Linked DNA regions of Homo sapiens: region 1 is linked to region 2. Evidence: fine-mapped expression QTL. A gene starts in region 2. The other region holds a variant in brackets. All regions are shown on one strand. Distances are between the middles of the regions. Region 1 overlaps SCAF1 (SR-related CTD associated factor 1). Region 2 holds the start of IRF3 (interferon regulatory factor 3).

What was found. PIP is the estimated chance that this variant, and not a neighbour inherited with it, causes the effect.
Region 1: its variant is fine-mapped to the expression of IRF3 in prefrontal cortex (GTEx, PIP 0.93).

What each region holds. Positions count from the first base shown.
Region 1 is chr19:49,642,282-49,647,643 of GRCh38, reverse strand. SCAF1 (SR-related CTD associated factor 1) reads right to left here. Exons shown (of 11, transcript NM_021228.3): 2 at 2,510-2,623; 3 at 2,233-2,290; 4 at 1,442-1,536; 5 at 1,018-1,118; 6 at 814-929. The coding sequence starts at 2,617. Among named protein-coding and RNA genes, the nearest start is that of SCAF1, 2.8 kb to the right of the region's middle. RefSeq lists a silencer at 5,225-5,362. The variant G/T (reference allele first, on the strand shown) is at 2,640.
Region 2 is chr19:49,662,868-49,668,229 of GRCh38, reverse strand. IRF3 (interferon regulatory factor 3) reads left to right here and starts at 2,373. Exons shown (of 8, transcript NM_001571.6): 1 at 2,373-2,599; 2 at 3,384-3,556; 3 at 4,716-4,887; 4 at 4,972-5,042. The coding sequence starts at 3,392. BCL2L12 (BCL2 like 12) reads right to left here and starts at 2,297. Exons shown (of 7, transcript NM_138639.2): 1 at 2,163-2,297; 2 at 1,431-1,545; 3 at 1,069-1,211. The coding sequence starts at 1,537. RefSeq lists silencers at 2,125-2,204, 2,245-2,394.

The DNA.
Region 1 (5,362 bases), 21 kb after region 2:
AAACATGACCTGGCACAGAGTGGTGTGCCTGCTCTACCACAGAACTGGTGCTCACGGCTCACAGCTGGTGCCCATAGCTGACTGCACCTTCTTCTCCTCTCCCTCCAACCCCTCCTCCAAATACAGATGTTCACGTAGAAGGAAGGCCTAAACCCAGGGTTCTCAACAGAGTCCAGGGCTCAGCAGCATGTATTGTTTAAAATGAAAATTCCCAGGTCCCACCCCAGACCTGCAGAATCAGAACTCTTGGGAGTGGGCCCAGTGATGTGCATAGTAACAAGTCCTCCTTGCAACTGAGATGTGCGTTCGCGTTTGGTCTAAAGGGCTCACAGGGTTACCGTTGTGTGTGGGGTTGGAGGAAGAGATTCCTCCTTGGGCAGCGCACATCTCAGACATCAAAAACTTGGGCTTCAGACTCAGACACACCAGGGCTCAAGGCCCAGGCACCCCACGGAGCATCTGGCTGTGCGCCCTTGGGCAAGTGCCTGCCCTTTTTCAGGCTGTCTGCTTCTCTGAAGATAGAGATTCGAAGAGTCCCCCTCCTGGGGAGATGAACGCCCAGTGCAGTGACACTAATACTTAGCGTGCCGAAACCAGTTGTCACACACGCTGACCACTCCCACATAGCCCCAGCACATCAGTTTTTACTTTATGTACATCTGTATGCGCCTACAGCCTTAATCACGTCTAATACGAAGAGAAGGGAAAGGTTTTGTCTAAATAACATGATCACCGCTACCATCACTACCAAAAACAGCCGATCCCCACACAACTCCACGACCACCTGCCCAGCTCCGCCCTGGCCCCACATACCCGTTTTGCCCGTCCTCCAGGCCCTGAGACGGGGCAGCAGGCTGGGCACAGGCAGAGGGATGGGATCTCTGTCCCCGATTCGGACCTCAGCCACCAGCTCCAGCATGTCCTCACTTCTGCAAGGCGGAAGGGGTGGGTGAGCCTCAGGGGTGCTTCTGGCTCTCACGCTGAGGCCTCTCCCACTCCAGCTGCCCAGCTACTCACTCGCCAGGCCGCAGGTCCAGGCGGCTGGGAACCCAGGTATCCGGGGGATCCAGGACACTCACCAGCCCTGCGAGGAAGCTGTCCGTGGCCATGTCCAACACCTGGAAGAGGCCAGAGAGGCTCTACGCCGTCCCTGGTCACATGAAGACTGGCAAATCCTGCTTCCCCACTCCCTAACCTCTCAGGAACCCAGACATCTAAGATCCCCAAGAAAACTGAGGATCTAATTCCTATAGCCTGACTGCCATCAACACTCAAAGCTCAGGCCCACAGATCAGGCCCCCAGACTCTCCAACATTGCCCCTGGTCAGCATCGCAGAGCCAGGAGTCCAGGTCCCCAAACCCCATTCCCCCAGACTCAGGCCCCCATCCCTTCCTCCCTGATACCCGTGAGCCAGGCCCCCAGCCCCCTCTTCTTACTCACAGTAGCCGTGTCAGTGCCCCCTGATTCCTGGGAACGGGGCTCTGACCGTGGACTCCGGCAGCGCCGCCATCGAAGGCCATGACACCGAGAGCCATCTGGTGAGAGATTTGCATGGGGGATTGGACACAGGGGACTTGCTGCAGAGACTTGCGGGGTAGAGGAAAGAGGAGCTTGATCTAGTTCCTGACAGCGGAACCAGCCTCCCGCATGCTCTCCAGGCCTCCATGCGCCACCTCCCAGGAGGACTTCCCAGCACCCACTTCAGAGGCTGCGACGCTCAGCCATTCGTCCTCCTGTCTGCCCTCAGACACCTCAACCTGGCATTCAGGCCTTGCTGGGATCCAGTCCCCACAGACCTCTCCTGCCTCCCCCAACCCCACTCACACCCTCCTGCATGCCAGCCCCAAGGAAGCCCAGCGCAGCCCCTCGCCGCTGCACCCGTGCTGTAGGCCTGCTGCAGCTGATCAGGCTTCCCTCTAATCCTAGGTCCTTAGACTCTTCTAGGTCCTTAGAGAGCCGTTCACTGTCCCTGCTCGGGGAAGGTGCCCTGACCCGTCTCCCACCATGCTAGCTCAAGTGGGCCTCCTGCCCTCTCCCAGCACTGTGCCTGTCTCCCTTCCACTGCACACTAGGCCCTTCCAAGGCAGCTACAGGGTGTCTGCCCATTTTTGGCTCCCCATGCCAGCACAAGGGTGGCACCCAGGAGGCTTCAGAAAAGCTTGTATGAATGACATTAGGATAAAGAATGCAGAGAGGGGGCAGGGGCTAAAAGGAACCGGAAGCCGCCATACCTTTATCATTGGGCAGGTCCCCCTGCAGGGAGCTTCCCACAGCCTGCTGGATGGCTCGCTGGGGAAGGGGGGAAGAACCAAGCGTCAGAGGACCCAGGCAGATGCTTTGCAACCTCTGCCCCTTGGGAGACAGACATCCCAGACACTGACAGCTAGACTCAAGTGCTTCAAGGGAGCCAAGAGTCCAGCGCCCCTGCCTCAGGCCCTGGAGTCAGGCCCCTGGAGTGTGGATGCCCAGCTCCTCCATCCCTCAGTGCCAGGAGCCCAGCAGCCTCACCAGGATAAAGGCAGAAGGAGAAAGCGTGGGGTCTCTGTCTGGCGGACCATCGCCCCGATCCTCCCCCGACTCCTCTGTCTTCCCTCGAGACTCATCTTCTTCCTCCATGGTCACCTGGGGGTCCAGGGGG[G/T]AGAGTTTGGAGTGGAGGTCCCGGGAGAAAGGATGGAAGTAGAGGATAGACATGAAGACCTCAAGGGCCCCACACTATCTCCCTCAGCATCCCCTCTGGCACCCCTCCTCTCCTCCACCTCCTCCCACTCCACCCTGTGCTTGGGTGGGCGCTGGACCCAGCACAGACACCCCAGGGACTAGGAGCAATTCTCTTCCTTTTTTCTGGGTCTCAGGTGCCTCTTATGTCAAAGGGAGGCCTCCCTGGCCTCCGCTTTTAACATCTCACTCCTCAATTCCCGCAGCTTCCCCAACAACCTATCCAAACTTCAAGACCTCATTCCCTGGCCTCCTAAGAGGCAAAGCCAACACCAAGGTTTTTTGTGTGTGCTGCACTGTGATTTCAAAGGGTGTGTTCCACAGTCCTATAAACCCACCTTTCCCAAGGCCAATGTGCTGGGCAATATTCAACACCATGCCTTAAACACCACACGGCTTCCTAGAGCATCAACTGTCCTCGATGGTGAGGACCACCCCCAAATTGTATTTATACACCTAAGTTGGAAACTTCATTGAGTGATCTGCAAAACCAGTATGCCATTTTTAAAATGAAAACGCTAAACTTCAGAAAGACATGCCGAAGGAAAACTTCACAGGAGGCATTTACCTATCGCCATCTGCACAAAGCCTTTGCAATGTCATGGAAATTCTTTGATATGATTCCCCAGTCAGGCAGTTGAAAGATCATCCATCAAACAGGTGGATGTCTTGATTAGGGCTTCAGAAAAATATGAATATTTCAGCTGTAAGCTTCCCCATGACTGTCAAATCTGCTACTCATAAGACAATATCCAATCTCAAAATTCCTAGAAAGCTTCAAAATCCCTAACCCACAACTCAGTATGCTTAATTGTAAATGCACGAAATAGGAGCATCTATCTCAGAGAATGGCTGTGAATACTCAAAGCCTGACTTCTGCCACACATTTAGAGCACCTCAAGTGCTCAATACGGATGAAGAGGAATGACACTATTAGCCCTTAACGCCCAGGTTTCCCCTACATCTGTCTCCTCGCTTCCCCCACAGCATGCCTGCAAAGACAAGGCCCTGGTCCTGTTCTAGATCCCATATAGATTTTCAAACCATGCCAAGCCTCCATATTCAGCCTCCCAGCTCCACCTAATTCCTAACTTCCTAAGACACACCCAACCCTGATAGTCTATTACATCCCAGCCTCTTTCACCAATACTCAATAAGCTCAGCCCCAGTTCCTGGCCCTGGAACTGCTCTCCAGCACCTCCCGGGGAAGCACATGCTACCTACAACAGTGACTGTCACATATCAGAAGCTTAATCAACATCTGCTGACTACAGGCTGAGGGATCCCCAAACCCTCTGCAGTATACAAAGATGCTTGCTTGCTCATTTAGAAAGCACCAGGCTTCGCAGACACACCCTCAGCTACTGAGATCTTCTGAACAGAAGAATGCTCTGCAGATACTGCTAGGTCCTATCTGGATCAGTGGTTTCCCCAACAACAGGGTCATATACCAGTTTAGTGCTTCACAAATAGCTTGTTTTAAAAAGTAAATAGAACAAAATAGTTCTTCACAGCACAGCACAAGTAGTAAGTGGAAATGTCAATTCGTGGAAGGTGAGTTAATGTTAATACATTATGTTATATAATGTTAAATACATTATGACTGTCTGTACCAGGTCTCAATGAAAAAATGTATCTTAATGCAGATCACGGTCAACATGGCCCAGGTTTCCCCTTGAAAAGCACTGTAATAGTGGGTCTAGATGACCCTCCAGACTCTTCCAGACTAATGTAGATTAATTCTAACTCTCTCAATAACCCCCAGGGTAATGCAGAATCTTAAAACATTTTTCATTTGAATTACTGTCTGAAGGGCAAGTATATCTAAGCTGGGCAAAATTTCCTCATTCTCTTTCCGTATTATTATTCGCCACAAGCTGCTCTGACCCCAAAGGCATTCGAATTTGCTCCAGGCATCAAAACTGCATTCCTGCAGTCACATTAAAGCCATCTAGATGGTTCCAGGTCCTTCTAACTGCCCCCAGCCTCCTGTCACCCATTATTAGACACTACCCATACCTTGGAGACCCCAGACCCTCAGTACATCTCAATATTTGGCGCCCTTCCCTGGTGGGCATAACCCAACCCCCTAGGGGGCCCTAAATGACTTCTTAGCCCTTGAACACTCCTTCTAGGCCTGATAAATGGCCCCAGACTTATGCAGACCAGTTGCATCCTCAGGCCAGCCCATGCAGACACTTTCCAGCCCTAAAAGACATACCCCAGGCCTCTAGATGGCTCTGAAGATACTCTTCAGGTCTTGCAGACCCTCCTTCACCCCTGGGACATATCTCAAGATCTCAAGATGGCCCCAGAACCCTCTAACCAGACCCTAGCCTCCGGTCAGCCCAAAAAGACAATCTACAGTGTCTACAGACACGATCCAGGCCAGCTGTGTGATGGAGGGCAGGCCTTAGGCTCGGTCTAGGCCCAGAGACGCCCCAAGTCCTCTCGGAGACGCCCCATAGACGCCCCCAGGAACCCACGGATGCGTCCCGGGGCCCTGAGAAGGCCCCCCTCTCGGCGCCAGGTTTCGCCGCAGCTGCCGGGCCCGAGACCGCCCCGAGAAGCCCTCTAGGACCCGTGGCTTGTGGGGAGGACCCCGGGACAACTAGCGACCCAACTCCGCCCCGCCCACCCCAATAG
Region 2 (5,362 bases):
CAGCTACTTGGGAGGCTGAGGCAGGAGAATTACTTGAACCCGGGAGGTAGAGGTTGTGGTGAGCCGAGATCGGGCCATTGCACTCCAGCCTGGGCAACAAGGGCGAAACTCCGTCTCAAAAAAAAAAAAAAAAAAAAGAATGTCAGAGCTGACAGGGTGCGGTGGCTCACGTCTGCAATCTCAACATTTTGGGAGGCCGACGTGGGAGGGTCACTTGAGGCCAGGAGTTTGAGGCCAGCCTGGCCAACGTGGCGAAACCCCGTGTCTACTAAAAGTATAAAAATCAGCTAGTATGCTGGCGTGCACCTGTAATCCCAGTCACTCGGGAGGCTGAGGCACGAGAATCGCTTGAACCCAGGAGGTGGGGATTGCAGTGAGTCGAGATTGCACCCCTGCACTCCAGCCTGGGTGACAGAGCAACAATCTGTCTCCAAAAGACTGTCAGAGCTCAACTAGACCTTGAAGATGATCTCATCCAAGGAAGGCAAACACAAGACATTACTGTTAGTATCCCCTTCCCTCACTCACTACAGACATCACCAATTGATCACAGCACTTCCTCTCCCAAGCTGTGAACCCCTTTTCAAGCTAGCACTCCCAGCAGCCATTACTAGTCTGTCCAGGTTCACACCTATGAGGAAACTTGTGGGTCACCTTGATCAAGTCCAGTGACCTCCTCCCCAATTCCTACTCTGCTATTGGAAAAACAGGGGAGCAGGGAAGAGAAAGCATTTTCCCCAGAGTCACGCAACTAAAACAGCCAGGGAGATGTGATTGAAAACCAGCCCTTCTGCCCCTCTATCAGGGGTATTCCTGGCTACAAAAGTCCTAGGGGCAGGGAAGTAGTTATGGAAGGAAAGAGACAACAACCAGATTGACCAAATGCTCTCTGAAAGCCAACCCACAGAATTGACAGAAATCTAACTGGGGAGGGGAGAGGACAGGACGGTTCTGTCCTGAAGGCTGGTGCTAGAGACTCCACACAGCCACCCCCTAGCTGAGTGATCTTAAACTAGCACCTTATCCCGTGTTCTGCCGGCTTCATAGATGATCATGGAAATCTCTTACCAGGCTCTAAACCATAGCAGGGGCGGATGGGCAGAGAGCAAGGCCGAGGGGACTCAGAGGGGGCTGCTCCTCGCCCCAGGGAGCAGGGAAGACATCTTCGAAGGCGGCTCAGGAAGTCTGTTGGCTCTTCTTGGGCAGGGCTTCTGGAGAGGAGGACTTCAGAGACTGACCCCACCAGAGATCCCCTGCAAGCAGTCTCTTTCCCCAACTCCCTCCCTCCCCCGCTGAGGACCTCTCTCCAAAACCCCAAAGACAGAGAATAGAGCCAGATATAAAGAGAGGAGACAGACTGAGACCAGGAGCAAGAGTTAGGAGGGAGCCTCAAATGCTGGCCCCTGGGGGAGAAGGGCCACTCCTCTTACCTAGGTGGAGTTGGAACAGGAGACCCGGCAGCCTCACCACGCCTAAGGAAGGCAGCTAGGACCCTCAGCGTGTCTTCCCGGAGCCCCAGCTCTTCAGAGCCTGCCATGGAGGCACCTGTGAGAGAGAGGGTTAGGGACTGGACTCCAAGGGTTTAGCAAGAAGTGGAGGCTTGGGGACCAGGACTTGTGAGTCCCAAGGAAGGTGCTGAGGGCCTGGACTCCTGGGTCCTTTGGAGAGTGTGGGTCTGGGGGCCTAGACTCTTGAGTCCTCAGACGAAAAAGCGATCAGGAAAAAGACTCTTCGATCCAAGGAAAGGTGGTGGGGCTGGGTGCCCAGATTCGTGGGTCTAAAGGAGGAGGGAGCTGGGGTCCTGGACTTCTGAGTCTTAGAGAAAAAGGAACTGGAGCCCCAGACCCTTAGGTCTCCCAGGAAGAAGAGGCTTAGCGCCCCAACTCCTGGATTCTATAAGAGGCATATGCCAAACTCCTGAAACCCTTAAAGCATCGGGAACTACCAATCCCAAGAGGTTTCAGGGCAAATCTTCCCCTAGGTCCGCGCTTCTTCGCCGCGCAGCCTGCTGTGAGGTGTAGTTCCAAATCTCCGACCCCTGCTGGAATCTAGAGGACCCTGGACCCTTGGATATCAGAGAAGCGGGACTGGGGTGCCCACCACTGGATCCCGGCCCCCTCCTCTTCCCTCCTCACCCCACCCCTCGTCAACACCCCGCTGACCTGGTCCGGGGCCCCACCGCCGCCTCCTCCACTCAACTTGCGGTCTCCTCCACTGAACTCGTACAAACTTTATTAGTTCAACTTTCCCGCGCCTGCGCACTGGGCCGGGTCGATAACCGGCCCAGCGTAGAAAGGGCGGAACGCTGGGTGCACGCTCAATTTGCATGTGACGCTCCCAGCATGCCTCTGGCCGGAAACCCAAAAAAGGGCATAGGGGCGGGAACAGCCCAGCGGGCCGTCCCATCGGCTTTTGGGTCTGTTACCCAAAGAATGATAAAGTTGGTTTTATTTCAAGAAGTCGATCAAAAAGAAAGCCCCAGCGCTCTAGAGCTCAGCTGACGGGAAAGGGGGTGCGCAGCCTCGAGTTTGAGAGCTACCCGGAGCTCCAAGACAGGGGTGGGTTCCAGCTGCCCGCACGCCCCGACCTTCCATCGTAGGTAACGCGGAAGAGCCCGGGAGAGCGTTGGTGGCGTCCGAGAGCGAGGAGCGGGAAAGAGGATGGGTCTGCACGGAGAGTGGAAAGGCAGGCTGTGTACTCTGGGGAAAGTGGAGCAAGGAAGGAGCTACAGTGGCCGACGCTGGAGGTCGGCTGCAGAAAAACTAGAAAAAGTAGGGAGGAAAGAGGAAAAGAGGAGGCGTCTACACTGAGGGGGTTCTAGAGAGGGAGGGGTGGACTCCGTAGATGGGGGTAGTTCAGTCTCGAAACCTGGGGCGTGCTCTGTCCTGGAGGAGGGAGGCGGGCAGTCGGAGGGGAATTGAATGGAAGTTCTGTGTTGGAAATGTTTTGGGAGATCTTCTGTAGGGGGACTGTGGAAGGGGGTCTACATTGGGGTAAGTGCAGGAGGTAGAGGCTTACACGTGAATCGATTCTGCACTGAAATAACTAGGGAAAGAGGATGCTACCCTGAAAGTGGGGATACTTACTTTCGATGATGTGGGGGAGGGAGGAGGTCTATACTGGCGGAATTGAGGGAGTGGAGGGTCTGCACTGAAGACGCTGGGGAAGGATGTGCCATGGATATGGGAAGGAACCCTAGCTGATTAGAGAGCCTCTCGGGAGGATGGGAGGATGGGAAGAGGAGGTTTCCTGTTTGTACCCCCGAAAATATGGGTGAAGGACCTGTGCCGTGGCCCGTGAGAAGGAGGTCTGGGTGCGGAAACTCCAGGCCAGGTGGGTCCGGGGGAGGCCGGTCGCGCCCAGGAAATGCCCTATACGCGCAGGCCGGACCATGGGAACCCCAAAGCCACGGATCCTGCCCTGGCTGGTGTCGCAGCTGGACCTGGGGCAACTGGAGGGCGTGGCCTGGGTGAACAAGAGCCGCACGCGCTTCCGCATCCCTTGGAAGCACGGCCTACGGCAGGATGCACAGCAGGAGGATTTCGGAATCTTCCAGGTGCGTGCGACGACCTGGGACGCTGGAAACCCGGAGCTGCGCGCTGGGCGGAAAGGACTCCTAGTGGGCCCGGCTGAGAAGGCGGAGGTGGCGCGCGAGGGGCGGGCTCGTGCCAACGCTGGTGGGTGGGGCTAGAACGGGAGGGGCGGGGCTAGCCGGATCCGCTGACTGATGGTGGGGCGCAAGCAGGGTTGGAGCTGCAGGGTTACGGGAATAAAACCGGGAAAGCCGGTTAGTACGCAAAGGAAATGCATCCTGGGGGTTTGGGGCTTTCTAGAGGCCGGGGCTCTTGGTTGTAGGATAGATACTGGGGGATGGTTCTTGAAACATCAGAGGTGAGGCCTGGAGCCCCAAATCTGAGGTTCCTAACTACCGAATTAGTATATGCCAGAGGTGGTAAACAGTGTGAGGGGCGGGGTTATCACAGAGGGTGTCGCGGGGCAGGTGGTGCACGGGATTAGACACCAAGTTGGACTTGGAAGCCTGGCTTAGAAAGAAAAGGTTTTTGGGCCGGGGGCGGTGGTTCACACCTGTAATCCTAGCACTTTGCAAGGCCAAGGCGGGAGGATCGCTTGAGCCCAGGAGTTTGAGGCCAGCTTGGGCAACATAGGCTCCATCTCTTTAAAAACAAAAGCGAAACAAAACAAAAACCAAAGAGGTTTCAAAGGCTTTTGAAGAGGCCGAGCACAGTAGCTCATGCCTGTAATCCCAGCACTTTGGGAGGCCGAGGAGGACGGATCACCTGAGGTCAGGAGTTCAAGACCAGCCTGGCCAACATGGTGAAACCCCATCTCTACTAAAAATACAAAAATTAGCCAGGTGTAGTGGTGCCCACCTGTAATCCCAGCTACTCAGGAGGCTGAGACAGGAGAATCGCTTGAACCGGGGAGGCGGAAGTTGCAGTGAGCTGAGATTGCACCATTGCATTCCAGCCTGGGTGACAGGAGTGAAACTCCATCTCAAAAAGAAAAAAAGCCTTTTGAAAACTAGAGGTGGGGGATGGAGGTAGGTGGGACGGGGGGATTTGGGGATGGACCTTGCAGAGTTAGAACTTGCCAGGGAAAGAGGGTGGTGTTAGGACTCGGGAGACAGGGTTAGGGCCCCAGGAGCAGGATCTAAGTCGTCCTCCCCCACCATCCTGACACCACTGTTGCCCCAGGCCTGGGCCGAGGCCACTGGTGCATATGTTCCCGGGAGGGATAAGCCAGACCTGCCAACCTGGAAGAGGAATTTCCGCTCTGCCCTCAACCGCAAAGAAGGGTTGCGTTTAGCAGAGGACCGGAGCAAGGACCCTCACGACCCACATAAAATCTACGAGTTTGTGAACTCAGGTCTGCCAGCTTGGGGTTCGTGTGGGAGGCTGGGGCCCCAAGGGTTCCTGGCACTCCTACTCCCCTCACCACTTTTCTCAACAGGAGTTGGGGACTTTTCCCAGCCAGACACCTCTCCGGACACCAATGGTGGAGGCAGTACTTCTGATACCCAGGTGAGAATGTGCCCAACTTTCATGCCCCTCAGTCTCCGACCTGTCTCCATGGGCCTTGTCCTCTCCCTCTAGACGATCCCCCCACTCCCCTGCCTCCAGCCTGCCCCTCACCTGAGCCAGTGCTGACCCTGTCTGTCCCTGCCCCGGTCTCCTCAGGAGAAAATTCCAAGTCTTCACCCAGCATTCAAGGCCCGAGCACACCTTCCCGGGATTTCATGGATTTCGATTCGCAGGGGGCTGTCAGCCTCTTGGGAACTGAAAAACTCCCTCACCTTGATCCTGCTGAGGCCCAAGCTGGGGGAGCATCCCCTCTGAAATTC